2 separate regions of the Homo sapiens genome follow, and region 2 is linked to region 1. A link means that fine-mapping ties the variant in region 1 to the expression of a gene that starts in the linked region. Tissue or cell type: subcutaneous fat. Region 1 holds a variant in brackets; the other region holds the start of a gene. All regions are shown on one strand. Distances are between the middles of the regions.

Region 1 (8,178 bases):
GTGGTGCGATCTTGGCTCGCTGCAAGTTCCGCCTCCCGGGTTCACGCCATTCTCCTTCCTCAGCCTCCCAAGTAGCTAGGACTACAGGCGCCCGCCACTAAGCCCGGCTAATTTTTTGTATTTTTTTAGTAGAGACGGGGTTTCACCGTGTTAGCCAGGATGGTCTCGATCTCCTGACCTCGTAAGCCACCCGCCTCGGCCTCCCAAAGTGCTGGGATTACAGGTGTGAGCCACCGCGCCCGGCCTTTTTTTATTTTTTTGAGACGGAGTCTCACTCTGTCGCCCAGGCTGGAGTGCAGTGGCGCGATCTCGGCTCACTTCAAGCTCTGCCTCCCGGGTTCATGCCATTCTCCTGCCTCAGTCTCCCGAGTATCTGGGACTACAGGCGCCCGCCACCACGCCCCGCTAATTTTTTTTTTTTTTTTTGTATTTTTAGTAGAGACGGGGTTTCACTGTGTTAGCCAGGATGTCTCGATCTCCTGACCTCTTAATCTGCCCACCTCGGCCTCCCAAAGTGCTGGGATTACAGGCGTGAGCCACCGCGCCCGGCCAGCAATATCATGTCTTTTTAGGTTTCTTCAATTAGAATAGTTCTTCAGCTTTGTCTTTCATGACACTGACATTTTTGAAGAATGTAAGCCATTTATTTAATCGACTGTCCCTCCTTTTGAATTAGTCTGATGTTTCCTCACAATTAGATTCCGGTTGTACCTTTTTGGCAGGAAAACCACAGAGGTGATATCATGTCCTTCAGCACACATACATCAGGAGATATATGCTATCAATCTGTCCCATTTGTCCCTTGCGATGTTAACTTTGATCATTTGATTCAGGTGGGGATTATCAGTCCTCTCTACTGTAAAGTTATTATTTTTCTCTTTGAAATCAATAGGTGTTTTATGAGGATCTACTTTGAGATTGTGTAAATACACTGTTTCTCATCAAATTTTTACCCACTAGTTTTAACATCCCTTGATAATTCTTGCCTGAATCATTAATGACTCTAAGGTTTACCAAATGGTCATTTTCTAATTTTATCATTTCTTATACCTATATTAGTTGTAATTTTACTCTAAGGAAAGCCTTTTTCTTTTTCTCCATTTATTTATTTGCTTATATTAATATGGACTTAGATTTTCACATTTTATCCAATTTATTATTATTATTATTTTAGATGAAGTCTCCCTTTTGTCATCCAGACTGGAGTGCAGTGGTGTGATCTCGGCTCACTGCAGCCTCCGCTTCCTGGGTTCAAGCAATTCTCCCGCCTCAGCCTCCCGAGTAGCTGGGAAAACAGGTGCTCACCACCATGCCCAGCTAATTTTTGTATTTTTAGTAGAGATGGAGTTTCACCGTGTTGGCCAGGCTGGTCTCGAACTCCTGACCTCAGGTGATCCACCCGCCTTGGCCTCCCAAAATGCTGGGATTACAGGCATGAGCCACCGTGCCCAGTTGATTATTATTATTATTTTTTAAAAGTTCAGATTGTCCAAGATTTGAATGGGAGCTCCTTCCAGCTTCTTCTTCTTCTTCTTCTTTTTTTTTTTTTTTTTATTGAAACAGGGTATCTTTTACTACATAGCACAGGCTGGAGTGCAGAGTGGCTATTTACAGAGGTGATCATGGCTCACTGCAGCCTCAAACTCTTGGGTTCAAGCAATCCTCCCACCTCAGCCTCCTGACTAGCTGGGACTACAGGTGCATGTTACTGCCCCCCAGCTAGGGTTATTTTTGAAGGTGGATTCTCCAAAACTCTGGTCCAGGCTATTTCTCCAAATTATGAATGTTTAAACAGCATTCAAGAATCTAATTTTTAACATTATGAGAAAGCACAGCATCTATGCCAGTGAATTTTAGAGTTCCAACGAAATAACAAGATGTTTATTTACATACATTTTATAATCTTCCTAAAGACCAGACTCATTTCCTAAGTGAGGACATGACTTCCTCTCTCTTCTCCCGGTCCTGATGTATGTCCAGTCCATTTCACAGTAGACCTACTGAGGAAGTAGCAGGGTAGAGAGGAGAGTCAGGGAAGTGGGAAGGTGAGAGAGAAGTAGGGAGGAAAAGGAACAGGAGGAGAAAGAACTCCTCTCCTCTCCTCATTTGTTCAGACGGTCTGGCACCTACAGCCTCCTCATGTCCCCCAGCCCCACTGCCCCCTCCTGGAAGTCAGCGCACTGCTGCCGCTGGCATTCACATCGTGTCGGCAGGACGCCGCGTTGTCAGAGGTTAGAGACAGCCACTTTCATCTCAGAAAAGGGGCCGGGAGATGACCTGGGTTATATAGAAGGAACTCAAGTCTTCTTGCCGCAGAAATGCCACTGGAAGGGATGGAGGAGAGAAAACCCGGTTGTATGATGTCTGCATTGCCCTCCTCGCTGGAACTCACCACAGGCTGGAGGTGCTTCCGGCAGAACCGAGCTCCGGGGAAAGCCTGTGATAAATCATCTCTGTCTTTACTAGCCAAGGGTTGCTATGGCAATAGGAATACACTGTAGGTTTTAAGAGATGTAATTTTCTGTGATTCACTGTATATTTTTAGCCATTTTTCCCTCTGTATTATCTCCCTGTGGTAATTGCCTATTAATGCTGGTCTGTACTAAGATTGGACTAAACGGTCGATTCTCAGAAGAGATGAAAACCCTGGAGCTCAGTAAGTACAAGGGGGTGATGGCCCATGAACTTAAGAGTAACCTGGTAGAACAACCAGATTAGTTCAGGACATGGATGAATTCACGTGGCCCATGCTACGTCTGTCTTGGGAGGAGAGTAAAGCAGAGTGAAGGGACCCAGCAATGTGGCTCTGGAGTTTTGGGAATGGGAAGCTGAGTCACACTACCCACTGAAATCCATATGCTCGAATGGTGTCAAGGGCAGGCCACAAAAGTCAGAAACGAGCATCCTGCGCAAGGGACACTAGGACCCAGGTTTCCAAACAAAGGAACTGTAAAAGCTTCTAACCTTTTGTTTTTTTTTTTGTTGTTGTTGTTGTTGTTTTTTTTTTGAGACAGAGTCTCGCTCTGTTGCCCAGGCTGGAGTGCAGTGGTGTGATCTCGGCCCATTGCAAGCTCCACCTCCCAGGTTCATGCCATTCTCCTGCCTCAGCCTCCCGAGCAGCTGGGACTACAGGCGCCCACCACCATGCCCGGCTAATTTCTTTGTGTGTTGTTTTTTTTTTTTTAGTAGAGACGGGGTTTCACCGTGTTAGCCAGGATGGTCTCGATCTCCCGACCTCGTGATTCACCTGCCTCGACCTCCCAAAGTGCTGGGATTACAGACATGAGCCACCGTGCCTGGCCTCTAACCTCTTTTAATTTAGTTCAAGTCTTCTATTGTTTCTTATCTTATCCTTCCTTCTTTATTCCTTTCTTCTTTCTTTCCTTGCTCTAATTTTACTTTTTTTTTTTTTTTTTTTAACCGTAAAATCAGGGGAGAGACTAAGAGGAGGTGAAAACAGAATGTATCTAGTTGCTATTGGTTCATAGTTGTATCAGGGGTCTTTCCATCCAGGCCACAGAAAATCCAGCCTAAACTGCTTAAGCAGAAAGAGAACTTACTCTTTCTCTAATAGCTGAAAAGTCCAGGGGCTTGGGTTTAGTCTCAGGCACAGTTGTATTCAGAAGGCCAGATGACATCATCAACATCTGGGCTGTCTGACACACCACTAAGTTTCACTGATATTTGGGCATTTGGGCTGCAATAACATGAAACTCAGCTAACAGAGGCTTCAACAAAGTGTGGTTTGTTTTTCTCACATAAGAAGTCCAGAGAGAGGTTTATTTTTCTCATTCAACAAGCAGCCCAGAATAGGCATAGATGACGTTACTATGCAGCAGCTCAGTAATGTCATCAAGAACCCAGCCTCCTTCTTCATTTCAGCTCTACTGTCTTCAGGGTCACAGGAGGACAGGTCCAGCTCTAGACATTCAAGGCAGAAAGAAGAGGCTAGCTAACTTCCGATTTTTTTTTTTTTTATCCAGAAAAGTAAATCAATCCCCAAAGTTCCCAGCTGACCTCTGCTTCCAGTTGATTGAATACATCAGTGCCATGAGGCCACTTTAGCCACAGAGGAGGCTGGGAAAGTACGTTTTTAAGCTTTTTTGGTCCCTGCAGTAGAAGCAGTGTTTTTTGTTTGGTTTGGTTTTGCCTCATATAACAGTCAAAGAACAAACCGTACCCAAGATTGTGAAAGGGTTCTGCCTCTTCCTTGCAGTCTGACCAGTCACTC[C/T]GTTGTCATATCCTAGCCAAGAAGGGAGAAGGTATAAGAGAAGGGCAAGAAGCTTTCTTTTAAGGATGCAATGCATAAGTTGCATTCATCACTTCTCTTCTGCCCATATGCTATTGGTCAGAACATAACCACATGATCACAACCAGCTGTAAGGGTGGCTGGGAAATGTAGTACTTGGGTAGCCATGTGCCCAGCTAAAACTTGAGGAGTTCTGTTAGTCACATGATGAAGAAGAGGGGTATTTTGAAACAACTAGCAATCTCCTCAGGTGTAGTTAGAGCTCCATGATGTGCTCACTTCACATTGCATGCCTGTATCAAAACATCTTATCTACCCCATAAATATATACACCTACTATATACCCACAAACATTTTTTAAAAATAAAATAAAACAAAAATAAATTAAAAAATAAAAAAGAGCAGTTATAGGAGAAAGGGTTTGGATGGCTATTAGATTCACTCATTCAAGGCCAAATATTTCTGCCTCTGCCACATTCTCAGAGAGGCTTACCTTTGTGCAGGTAAGACAGCTTCAGCATCACCAGCCTCACATTCTCCCTGGTCCAAGACCATTAGTAAAAGAGCTCAACATCTTCGCAGCTACCCTGGGCAGTCTCACCACATCTCCTTGGTTCTTACTGGGTCACCTGCCCATCATTAACTAAGGGGATGCAATGCAATACTCTGGTCATTCCTGAATGACTTGCTCCACAAAATCACCAAGATCTTTCTGGGCCTCAGTTTGCTCATCTGTAAACTAAACATAATAAAACCTACCTCACAGGGTTGGTGGGAGAGTGCTGCTGGGGGACTCAGGCTGAGCTGGGGGTCATTGTCCATACATGCATTTCAGTTTGCCTACTGACCAGACTCACCTTAACAATATCATTTCAAAAAACAAGACCCTCTAAAATCAAAGTAATCATCAGTGGATAGTTAGCCTAGATCTCATCTTATAATATATTCCAAAGTAAAAATACTTGCTAGGTACCTGGCACTGTGCTAAGCACTTTGCATACCTTCTATCAAAACTCTCAAAGTAATTCCATGGGAGAGATACTTTCACTGTTTTCAATTAACAGACAAGAGTGGTGATGGGTGCCTGTAATCCCAGCTACTCGGGAGGCTGAGGCACAAGAATCACTTGAACCTGGGAGGCAGAAGTTCCAGTGAGTCGAGATCACACCACCGCACTCCAGCCTGGGTGACAAAGCAAGACTCTTAAAAAAACAAACGAATAAACAAACAAAAATAAACGAGTAAATAAACAAAAGGGATAAGGAAATTTAGCTCCTTGCCTAAGGTCACAGCCAGCACAGTGATGGAGCCACAAAGCCAGGACTAACTTTGAACCCCCACAATCTCCTCCCTCTTATTGTATAAAAATAAGTAAAAATAACCACATATTTATGAAATCACGAAAACCTTCCTGCTGATTGTGGTGGTCACAAGAAAGCACCTTTTGATGCAGGACAGATGAACCTCCAAATTGGGGCTTAGCCCAGGAAGGTTCTTGGCTTTGCCGAGGAGAAAATTCAAGGGCAAGCCAATGGTGTTGAACAGCCTTTGATGAAAGCGCCCAGTGCACAGGAGCAGCAGAGGTACTGCTCCTTGCAGAACAGGGCTACCCTATAGGCAGTGGGCCCAGAGTAACAGCTCAGAGGAAGTTCTGCACTCATTTTTATGCCTGCTCTGAATTGTATGCAAATTAAGGGGTGGTTTATGCAGAAATTTCTAGAAAAGAGGTGGTAACTTCTAGGTTGTCAAGTCATTGCCACAGAAAGGGGTGGGAACTTCTGGGTGTTGCCATGGTAATGGTAAACTGACAGGGCACAGTGATGGGCGTGTCTTATGGGGTGGTGCTTCTGCCCTGGACTTGTTTTAGTTAGTCCCCAATTTGGTCCAGTATCTGAACCCTGCCTTCAAAGTAAAGTCTCACCTCCTACCTCACTTTGATCTCCCTTTGAGAGAACCTGCTACCAGGAGTAGCAGGATGACAGCCTTACACTATGGATCCTTTGGGCTCCCTGCAGCCTTCACACTGAGGCCTCCCCCTCCCTGGGCACAACAGATGTACTACAGCCAGGCCAGTCCTGTCCAGTGGCAACTCCTCTGTTCTTGGGCTTCCCATAAGCCTGGCTGTGGCTTTCTTGGAGCTATGCTGTAGTCTAGATTCTTCCTACCCAACTCTCTTTCCTTTCCACTCTCCTTCAGCAAGTGCCAGGCCTGCACTGCTGCCTGAGGGCTGTCCTCACCACTCCTGCTCCCACACCCTATATCCTTCACATACATTCTCCCCCGTGCATTTATGCTCTGCCTAATTCCATCTTGGCATGTGTTTCTCAGAGGACCTGAAATGACACACTTCTTGTACCTCCCTTAACTCACAACATGAACTACATCACAGGCTTTTATGTTTCCAAAGATTTTTGAGTGTTAAAGAATAAGAAAGCAATAAAAATAATAATTCAAAATTGGGCTGTAGGGAAGATCTAATGTGGTCCAATAAAGAGGCTCCTAGCCTGGCACTTAAAAGGTAGAGACTCCTTCTTGAAGCAAGTTTCTGCATAGAGAGAAAAACAATAATCATTGCTGATCTTAAAAGAAACCTAGCTGCATTGGGCATTTTGGATGGAGAGGGTTAGAGGCATCTGAGACTTGCCTGGAGTCACTCCACAGGGTCACAGATAGATTTCAATCATTCTAATCCTCATCCAGAAGCTTCAAATGCTCCTGAGACAAGGAATTGATCCTTTAGCGAAAGAGCGAAGAATGCTACTTAACTCAGCCAAAGAAAAATAATGATCAATTGAGCAAAATGTACTGGCTTTAGACAAGGATCTCCAAACTGAAATGGAATTACTCTTGTTGCCCCTGGGAACACAAACCATGTGCCACAACTACGCTGCCCTGCCCTGCCTCATCCTACCTTAAGGCTTTTTCAGGGGTTACTAACTAGTAGCCACAGAGCAATGTGTCCTACAAACATGTTTTATCTGGTCCCTGTGGTCTTTTTTTACACAATATAAATTAGTTAAGATTTATCAAGTGAGATATTTCACATAAAAAATCTGGACTTCATGCTTCTTTTGGAAAATCAGAAAATCTGACAATATCAGCCCTACATGTGAACTTCCTGCCTCAAACAGAACCAGAATCTCTACTACTCCTCTCCTATTAAACTCCTATTAAACATGCTGGCTTTAACATGCTCAGGACCATAAACCTACTTGATTTTGAGCACTCAGATTCAGATCATGAGCCCTGGGTAGCACTTGGCTGAAGTTAACTGTCAGCTCTTTAAGAAAAATGAGTTAGTAACAATTTTTTTTTTTTTTTTGAGATGGAGTCTTGCTCTGCCACCTAGGCTGGAATGCAATGGTGCGATCTCAGCTCACTGCAACCTCCACCTCCCGGCTTCAAGTGATTCTCCTGCCTCAGCCTCCCAAGTAGCTGAGATTACAGGCACCTGCCATCATGCCCAGCTAATTTTTGTATTTTTGTAGAGATGGGGTTTCACCATGTTGGCCAGGCTGGCCTTGAACTCCTGACCTCAGGTGATCCACCCACCTCGGCCTCCCAAAGTGCTGGGATTACAGGCATGAGCCGCCGCCACTGCACCTGGCCACTAAATAAATTAATAGCATAAACAGGATTTCAAGAAGGAATTTCTTTTTTTTTTTTTTTGAGACAGAGTCTCGCTCTGTCGCCCAGGCTGGAGTACAGTGGTGCAATCTCAGCTCACTGCAAGCTCCGCCTCCTGGGTTCACGCCTGAGGCTCCTGCCTCAGCCTCCCGAGTAGCTGGGACTACAGGCATCTGCCACCACGCCCAGCTAATTTTTCTGTATTTTTAGTAGAGACCCGGTTTCACCATGTTAGCCAGGCTGGTCTCGATCTCCTGACCTCATGATCCGCCCGCCTCGGCCTCCCAAAGTGCTGGGATTAC
Region 2 (8,178 bases), 240 kb before region 1:
AACAAACAAACAAAAATCTTTTTAATAAAATAAAGGAGCCGGGTACAGTGACTCACGCCTGTAATCCCAGCATTTTAGGAGGCCAAGGTGTGAGGACCACTTGACCCCAGGAGTTCAAGACAAACCTGGGCAACATACCAAGGTCTCATCTCTACAAATATTAAAAAATAATTAGCCACGCATGGTGGCATGCACCCATAATCCCAGATACTCCAGAGGCTAAGGCGGGAGAATGGCTTGAACCAGGGAGTTCAAGGCTGCAGTGAGCCGTGATCACGCCACTACTGCACTCCAACCTGGGCAACATAGAGAGACAACCCCCAACCCCAATCTCAAAAAAAAAAAAAAAAAAATTAAAGAAAATAAAATGTTAAATCTACACATCCCCATATAATATTCTTCTGTTGGAGATTTTTTTACAGGTTCTTTAAAAATCAGTCGTAAATATCTTTTACTTTTAAATATGTTTAATTGTTTCACTATAACAAGCTGCAATGTAAAAACAATTCAAACTCCAAGAAAGAAACTCCATACTATACGGTAGTGAAATATGAGCCAGAGAATCAATAAGAGGATGCTACACTACTGTTGAAGACCAGAAGTTGATATCTCCTTTGAAAAGTATCAACAGAAGCAGCATTGATGCAGGGTACAAAAGTACTATAATAAAGCTGGCTGTGGTAGCACATGCCTATAGTCCCAGCTACTCAAGAGACTGAGGTAGGAGGATTGCTTGAGCCCAGGAGTTCAAGGCCAACCTGGACAAAACAGCAAGATCACATCTCTTTGGGGGAAAAAAAAAAAAAGGTACCATAATAGTAATACTTTTAGTTTCAGAGTTGTTTAAAAATCTTAATTTTATGTTTAGTAAAGTAACTTATTCAAGTTTTTTTAAATATTTACTCTTATGATTGTAAAACTTTCTTTTATATTTATCAATTTGCTATAATATGAAATGATGTATCCACCATTTAACTAAATCAAGAGATTTATTAAATGCAGTTTATCATAAATCAAAAATAACCATTAATGAAATGGAAGAATCTATTTACTTTATCAGCATTGAGATTCTATTTACATAATGAAGAGCTATGGATAATAAACAGCCCAAACACTATCTGCAAAAAAACCAATATTCCAATGATTTTAATATACATATAACTATCAGTTTCTAGGCTTGGATTTAAAGAATATGTGAATGGAAAGAAGTAAATTAACATACTAATTTATTACAGCTTAGAAACCTAAATGAAATGCCACAGGCCACAAAACAACTGCTTCGTATTCAAAGGCACACATTCAATTTGGTAGATCAGCTGGACGCACTGCATTATACTGCAGGAGATAAGGGTTAAGTGACCTGGGGATATTGTTCTCCAGATGTCTAAAAGGTCCATTTTTTTATTGGAATTATCTCTACTTTAAAAAAAAAAAAAAAAGGAATTATATCTACTTTTGATAAATACCTAGCTTACCACACAATTAATACCTTCGCCCATATAAGATTCTACTTGAAGCTTCGTTTTTGAAATTTTAGGATTGTAGCTATTATAAAAACAAAATTTAAGAACACACAACATGTACAATGGGTCAAGAATACATGCCTTAGATTCTGATGAACAGGACAAGAAGGTTAAGAAAATACTATAACATACTCTAAGTTTGGGGGTACATTTTAGAGATTTTTAAGTGAGAAATCCAATAAATCTTTAAGCATTTAGCTTTCCATTATTGCAGCGCATGAAAAGACTTTTTTAAACTAATTTGTAATACACAATATATTCACTCCACAAATAACTATGTACATATATATGCCCACATCAATTTCCTACTCTTTTAATTAAAAATTTATGTTTCTTTTGGTCATAAAAATCTGGTTTTGGGTGTTTTAAAAGTTCAAACAGCTATTAAGCTATACTTTGCTTTGGCACTAGCTCCCCCTCCAGACCAATGTACTAATATAACAGCATTTTTAAAAATAATAAGTTAACAGTTTTTTCCAATCCACTGGCAAATTTTAAGATTCACCACTTTTAAGGACACTCCAATTGCGTAAAAATAACTGGTAAGAATTTGCAACAAAACAATGCAGGATGTAATCAGAATTAGTTTTGTTTTGTTTTTTTCGATTCCATACATCTTAAACAGAACTGATTTGTAGGAAAACAACTTCAGGTGACTTTTTAAATTCAAAAATATCCTCAAAATATAACCTATATAAGGCCGTACTTTATGGAAATTATTTTGAATCACTATCCTATTACACAAGACACTCTTCAAGTTAACTCACAACTTGACCAAAGATACATTTTTGCATCTGTTTCTGCAATCTATGCAAGTTTCATTCCAGCTGTTCAGCTCTTGAATTCAAATAGAATTCTCAATTTATAAGGCAGCAAAAAGAAAATCCATGTCTTGGAACTACCTTTGTACGTGTCTTATAGCCTATTCATCTCTAACTCCCTGCATTTTTTACACACTAAACCTGTGAAATCACAATTACAAATGCTTGAATTCCCACCTTTTCAATACTACTGTAGTATTTACAAATCAAGTAATTAAGATTTTCTATACACATACCAGATTTCACAAGGACAGCAAGGTACAGGGCCTTATTATTTGGCATAGGGTTTTAAGATGTTTTTACAGTTATTTTAAAGAGCAGAGACTACAACTCCATTATTTCTCATATATCTGATATACTGTAGTGCTTAAATAATAATTTCTCTCCTAAAATACTTTCTATATGATGCACCTATTTAAAGAATTAGTCATAAAACATAGAATGTAAATTTAATCAAGAAAATAAACATGCACCTAACCGCCGGAATAACAAGAAAAAAAAAATCTATAATGAAACCTGCCTACAGTTTTCATAGAGGCAAGCCAGTTAAGTCAGTTACTTGAGATGCGTTTAACTCTAAACTGACACAAAACTTGTGTTGAATTTGTTCCGCAAAACCTTGAAATTTGGGGTTATGTACTACAGAATTTGGCTTTTCTGGGTCCACCTTCCTGAGTGGGTTTAAATAAACTGTGAATAATTAAAACATAGGAAGGAAAAAAACACCACCTGTCCGTGCCTTTAACCAAGGCCTCAATCTATATATTATATGGCAAAATGCTAAAATAAAAGCTCATCCGGGACAAACCCTAAGCATGACACTGCCACTTAAGAAATACACTGCGTCTCTGAAGATTGCAATCCCCACTGTGAAGAAAGAACAGGTGCTGCACCCGACAACCCACTCAATCCTGCAGGACAAACCTCCTAGAACTGATAAATATGGACTCATTTAACCTTCCCAAATAAGTTGATACTCAAAAGCCGCCAGCTCGTCATTTGCACATCAAAAGGGAGTACAGCTGCACTCAAGCCTTTAACTGCCCTGCATCAGTCCCTCGCGGATCTTTGTGAGGGTCCACTCCCTGCTTTCTAGCCCGAGCAGCACTCAGAAAGAGCCCATAACGCACGGGCATCTTCCTCCCCACAAACCGCGACTCCAGGGACCGAGCTGCTGACGAAGGGAAGGTAGGTGTGGAGGGGAAACGACGGACACCTCCCACCCCCGCCCCCAACCCTTCTCCTTCCCTAGGCTTTGGCCCCTGCCCTAGGCAAGGATGCGCGACGCCGAGGGCAGCAGCGGCGCAGCTCCGCGTCCCGGCTGGAGAGGCGGGCGCCCCTCACCCTCTGCCCGCGCCCCCGGGGCTGCGCCAAGGCATCCGCCAGAGCGTCCCGGGGGCTCCCTCCCCACTTTTCCGAGAGCCGCTGGTTAACCGGCAGCAGTTGCAGCAACAGGCCCGGGTGAACGAGCAGGGACAGCCGCGGAGCCTCCTCAGATCCCGCGCGCAGCCCAGCCCAAGACCCCGAGGCGCGCGGGGCCCGGCTCCCAAAACGCCCCCTTACCCCAGGCGGGAGCAGAGGCGGTCTCCGCCGCTCCCCGTCGCAGCTGCCAAAGCCACAGCCCTCAGCCGCAGCTGCCCCACGATGGGGGAGTGGGAAGGGTGGCTGAGTGGAGGATGCTACTCCCGACCGAACGGAGAGGAAGAAACGGAAACAGGAACCGCCGCCGCCGCTTAACGGAGCCTTCGGCGCCACTGACTGAGGCAGAGCGCGAGGCGGCGCGAGCCGGGCAGTCGCTGACAGCGCGAGACCGAGAGCGAGCTGGGTCCAGGGCGCGCGACCCTGAGCAGTGCCGGCCCCATTCCGCGGGGAGACGAAGGGACGGGTCGGCTGGGGCCAGGCGGCGGGGGTGGGATGGGGAGGGGGCCTGGAGAGGAGGGAACCGGCTGCTCGGGTCGGCCGGAGATAACGCGCGCACGCGCCGGAGCGGCTCTGACAACGAGCGCAGGCGGGGAAGCCTCGGCCAGCGCCGGCGTGCGCGCGCGAATGGGGGAGCGCGCCCCTCGGCGTTCCTGGCTTCTGGGAGAGGGCGCGCATGCGCCGGCCGCTGCCACCTACGGCGACCCTGGCATGTGCCAGGGATTCTCCCCGCCCCCTTCCTCGCTGCGCCGGTGGAGAGCGTAGCAGCAGCATCCACCGCCTAGCAGAGCCGCGGGCCACAGCGGGACGGCACAGTTCCAGCAGGGCAGCGGCTGCGCACGCCGGCTCCGGCTCGCACACAGGCGTAGGCCGCCCTCTACCGCCTGAAGGCCGGAGGCTGAGCGGGGCGCGAGCGGATCCTGGATCCCGGGAGGAGACTCGCCTCCAGAGAATGCTGTGCTCCCTACAGCGCCGGGAATGGACCGGCCCGTGCCAGCTCAGTCGGCGGCCCTAGGGGGCACCCGCACTAGAGGTTTTGAAGCTGGCTCCTTGCTACTTTTAGGGGTGCGCGCTGCTGCTGCTCAGCCCCTGCAGCCCGCATTTGGCCGCTTGACTGCTGCTTCCAGCGCGATCCTACAATGGCATCGCTCCCCCAGGAGACTCAGCGAAGCCCTACTTTATCTTGTAAGAGCTGTTTCCACATTCACTCGAAGAGAAAGACCCCCCCCACGAGGGCCTGAGTTCGATGCCCGGCCTCTCCCGACCCGCGGCTGCGACAGCCCCTCTGAGGCGGAAGTTTATTTAGTACGGGAAAGAGAACAGCACGGGGAGAGGGGAGAGGCTTTGCCCTAGGATGCGTCCTACCCGCTCGGACTCGGAAAATTCCCGGCGCCCGCGATGCAGAGCAGTGGACCGAAGGGCTGCCCCAGAGCAGCCCAGACCGCCAGCTGAGCGGGAGGACCGGAGCGCGCCGCCCCAGCACACAAAGTAGTCGCGGGACGAGGGGTGCCGCCGAGGCCAATCAGAGCTGCGCGCCGCGTGAGTGGAGTGCGAGCCGGCCAATCAGAGGGCCGGAAGATGAGCTTCCCGTTCCAAACTCTTCCCTGTAGCCTTGGGACCCAGATCCCAAGCCTGGGGCGCTTTACGGTGGGAGAGCGAAATGGTGCCCTTAAGACAAGAATCATTTCTCTAGGCTTGGGCATTTTAAAGTACATACCGGGGATACTTATCCCAAAGCAAGTAGCGGCGGCCTTTTAGATGTTAAATATTAAAAGATCACAGAAAGGAGATTTAAGAGGCAGTGGCCTGTCAAGGTTGCAATCTGCCTAATATTCATAAATTCACATATTTATTGAGACCTTCTTATGTACCAGGAACTCTATCACAGATACACAAATAAGGTACTGCTGATTCAAAAGAAAATCCCTTGTCCTCAAGCAGCTCAGGTTGTGAGGGAGGCTTTCCTAGACCTTGAGACTCGTATTTATTGTCAGCTCTTTAAACAAAAAGCACTCTATGAAGTGCTGTACTTTACAGTCGTTTTTATGATTATCTCCCTGTGAGAAAAGAAAATTGAAAGGAAAGTAGAGTGACTTGTCCAAGATCACACAGAAGATGTACTAGCAGAGCCAGAATTATGTTCTAGCTCAGTTTGGGTGTCATCATTCAATAAAATAATTCAATAACAATTTGTAAATGCATGGATGCTCTCTCCCATGAGATTTCTGTACTAAACGTATAAGCAGGACAAAATTCTGGTATAAAAGTGACACACTTTGGTTGTTGGAAATGAACACAAATTTTAGACTTATGTGGGATTAAAGGTAAAAATCTTACCAGTCATACTTTAGATAATTTTTAGAAGTCAGAGGTGGGGTGGATATTTACTTCTTAGTTTAAACACAGCATTTTAAAAATATTTTAACAAGCAAGCGTAACTTTTTTTTTTTAAGATAGAAGAAGCAGGAAGGATCACTTAAGCCCAAGAGTTCCAGGCTGCAGTGCCACATCGTGCCTGTCAGTAGCCACTTCAGCCTGGGCAACATAGCAAGACCCTCATGTCTAAAATTAAAAATAAAATTTAAAAAAAAGAACTACTTCTAGTTGGTTAATAATCATGATAGTTTACACTGTATAATACTTTGAGATACCCAAGTACAAAGCTTTACATTTGCCTAAAAATTCCATTTTTGTCTGGTGTTCCATTTTTACTTCCAAAATCCTAGGAATTAAAGCACTTATTTTCCCTACCTCCTTCCAACTGAAAAAAAAAAAAAAAAAAACCTGTCCTAGGAATGTTTTGCCCAGGATTTGGTGCATTTGTATAGAACAGTATAATATACGTTAAAATAACAAATAACTTTGGTATCTCTTGAATACACTCAGAAACTAATTCTTCAGTGGTTTTGAAGTCTGCTTTGTTGAATCAATGTGCTTCTCCACCTGTGATGGAACATTATTATCAAAACCCTTTCCAAGGCAGGCTCAGGATTTAGCTGCCATCCCAAAACTGGAGGTCTCTGTCAAACAACTGATATTTGAGAACAAGTCTTTACACATTAAGTTCCAAGCCAATCATGAATTTCCAGGAAATTCACTTATGAAAGGGAATTTTATACCCTGCCTCTTCTCAGTGTGGATAACAGTCCCAGCTTTTAAAAAATACATTTATTTTACTCTCTCCAGACAAGAAAATTCCTAGAACTCAGTCGTTCTCTTGCCAGGTTAAATTCTGAGAGAGAAGGAATCCCCCAAAAGGTTCTAAACATCACTGGCCATCAGAAAGTATCTGTGTCAAAAGCATTTTTCCACAAGCTGCAGGTCCCACCCTGTTGCTGCGCTCTCTCATTCTCTTCTCCCAACTGCTTGCCTCTGCTGCTCATCACTGCCAGTTTGTAATAGTTGCTTAAGTAAGTACAGGTACTCCACCTCTTACTCCACCCCTCCCTCACCAAACTAGGTTTTGGACCCATCTTTGCTTATCCCAAAAGTTAAAGACAAGTTCTGTTCAACAAAAGATTAGACAGAACAATCGTTATGATCTGTTATACAACAAGTAACAGGGCCTTGTCAGTGCATTGTTTTCTTGTATATAGCCTCGGTCAAATTCTTAACCATCAGCTAGAGCTATGGGGACTCGGGTGTCCCGGGGCAAGAAGGAGTCAACCCTTAGACTATGGAAAAGATCAAAATGAAAGTTAAAGTGAGTACATGAGTGGCCATTTTATTGAGAGATTAGCTAGATCAAAGTTAATGAACGTGAATGCTATCACATTTCCTAAGTTGTGAACATTCATGTAGAAACTGGTTTGAAATTTACTACCATTTTATTATGACTGTAATAAAAATAATAGCCAAAGTGTAATAGTGCTGAGCACCAGGCCTCATGCAAAACTCTTTACCTCCACCATTTAATTCTCAAATCAAACCTTTGAGGTGGATCCTGTTATTACGGTGGGGAGATCTGTGGAGTTCCAGCAAGGGGTTGAGGCACTCAGAAGGCTTAGCATAAGCTACTTACCAAATAGTTTAGAAATTTTTCTATCTCTACCAACGTGTACCAACTGACTGTCAGCCATGGAAGCATTCTGAATAATTGTTAATTGTTCTCGTTGTTTTATAATTGTTGCTCTAGCTACATTTCACTTACAGGATCCGATTTTCCAGGAAGTCATCCAAAGGGCAGCATTGTTATTGCCAAGAGCAAGAAGGGGTGACCTTGAGATAATCATTTTACCCATCTGGGCCTCAGTTTTCTCATTTGTAAAATAAAAGGGTTGGACTAGGTAAGTTTTAGTTGTTCGTCAGTTCTAAAACTATAAATCTAGCCAACTTGACACACCATTGACAATAACTACAAAAATGAAATATAGGGAAAAAAAGTCTATATTTTCATTTTTATTTTTTAGAGACAA

Evidence for each region. PIP is the estimated chance that this variant, and not a neighbour inherited with it, causes the effect.
Region 2: it holds the start of FUT8, and the variant in region 1 is fine-mapped to the expression of FUT8 in subcutaneous fat (GTEx, PIP 0.96).

Annotation. Positions count from the first base shown.
Region 1 is chr14:65,165,131-65,173,308 of GRCh38, reverse strand. No RefSeq gene overlaps it. Among named protein-coding and RNA genes, the nearest start is that of LINC02324, 53 kb to the left of the region's middle. RefSeq lists enhancers at 2,150-2,319, 2,340-2,399, 3,963-4,062. The variant C/T (reference allele first, on the strand shown) is at 4,232.
Region 2 is chr14:65,408,944-65,417,121 of GRCh38, reverse strand. FUT8 (fucosyltransferase 8) reads right to left here and starts at 4,392. Exons shown (of 11, transcript NM_001371533.1): 1 at 3,908-4,392. FUT8-AS1 (FUT8 antisense RNA 1) reads left to right here and starts at 4,505. Exons shown (of 1, transcript NR_024334.1): 1 at 4,505-6,530. RefSeq lists enhancers at 3,087-3,651, 4,894-5,213 and silencers at 3,574-3,763, 3,774-3,893, 4,194-4,353.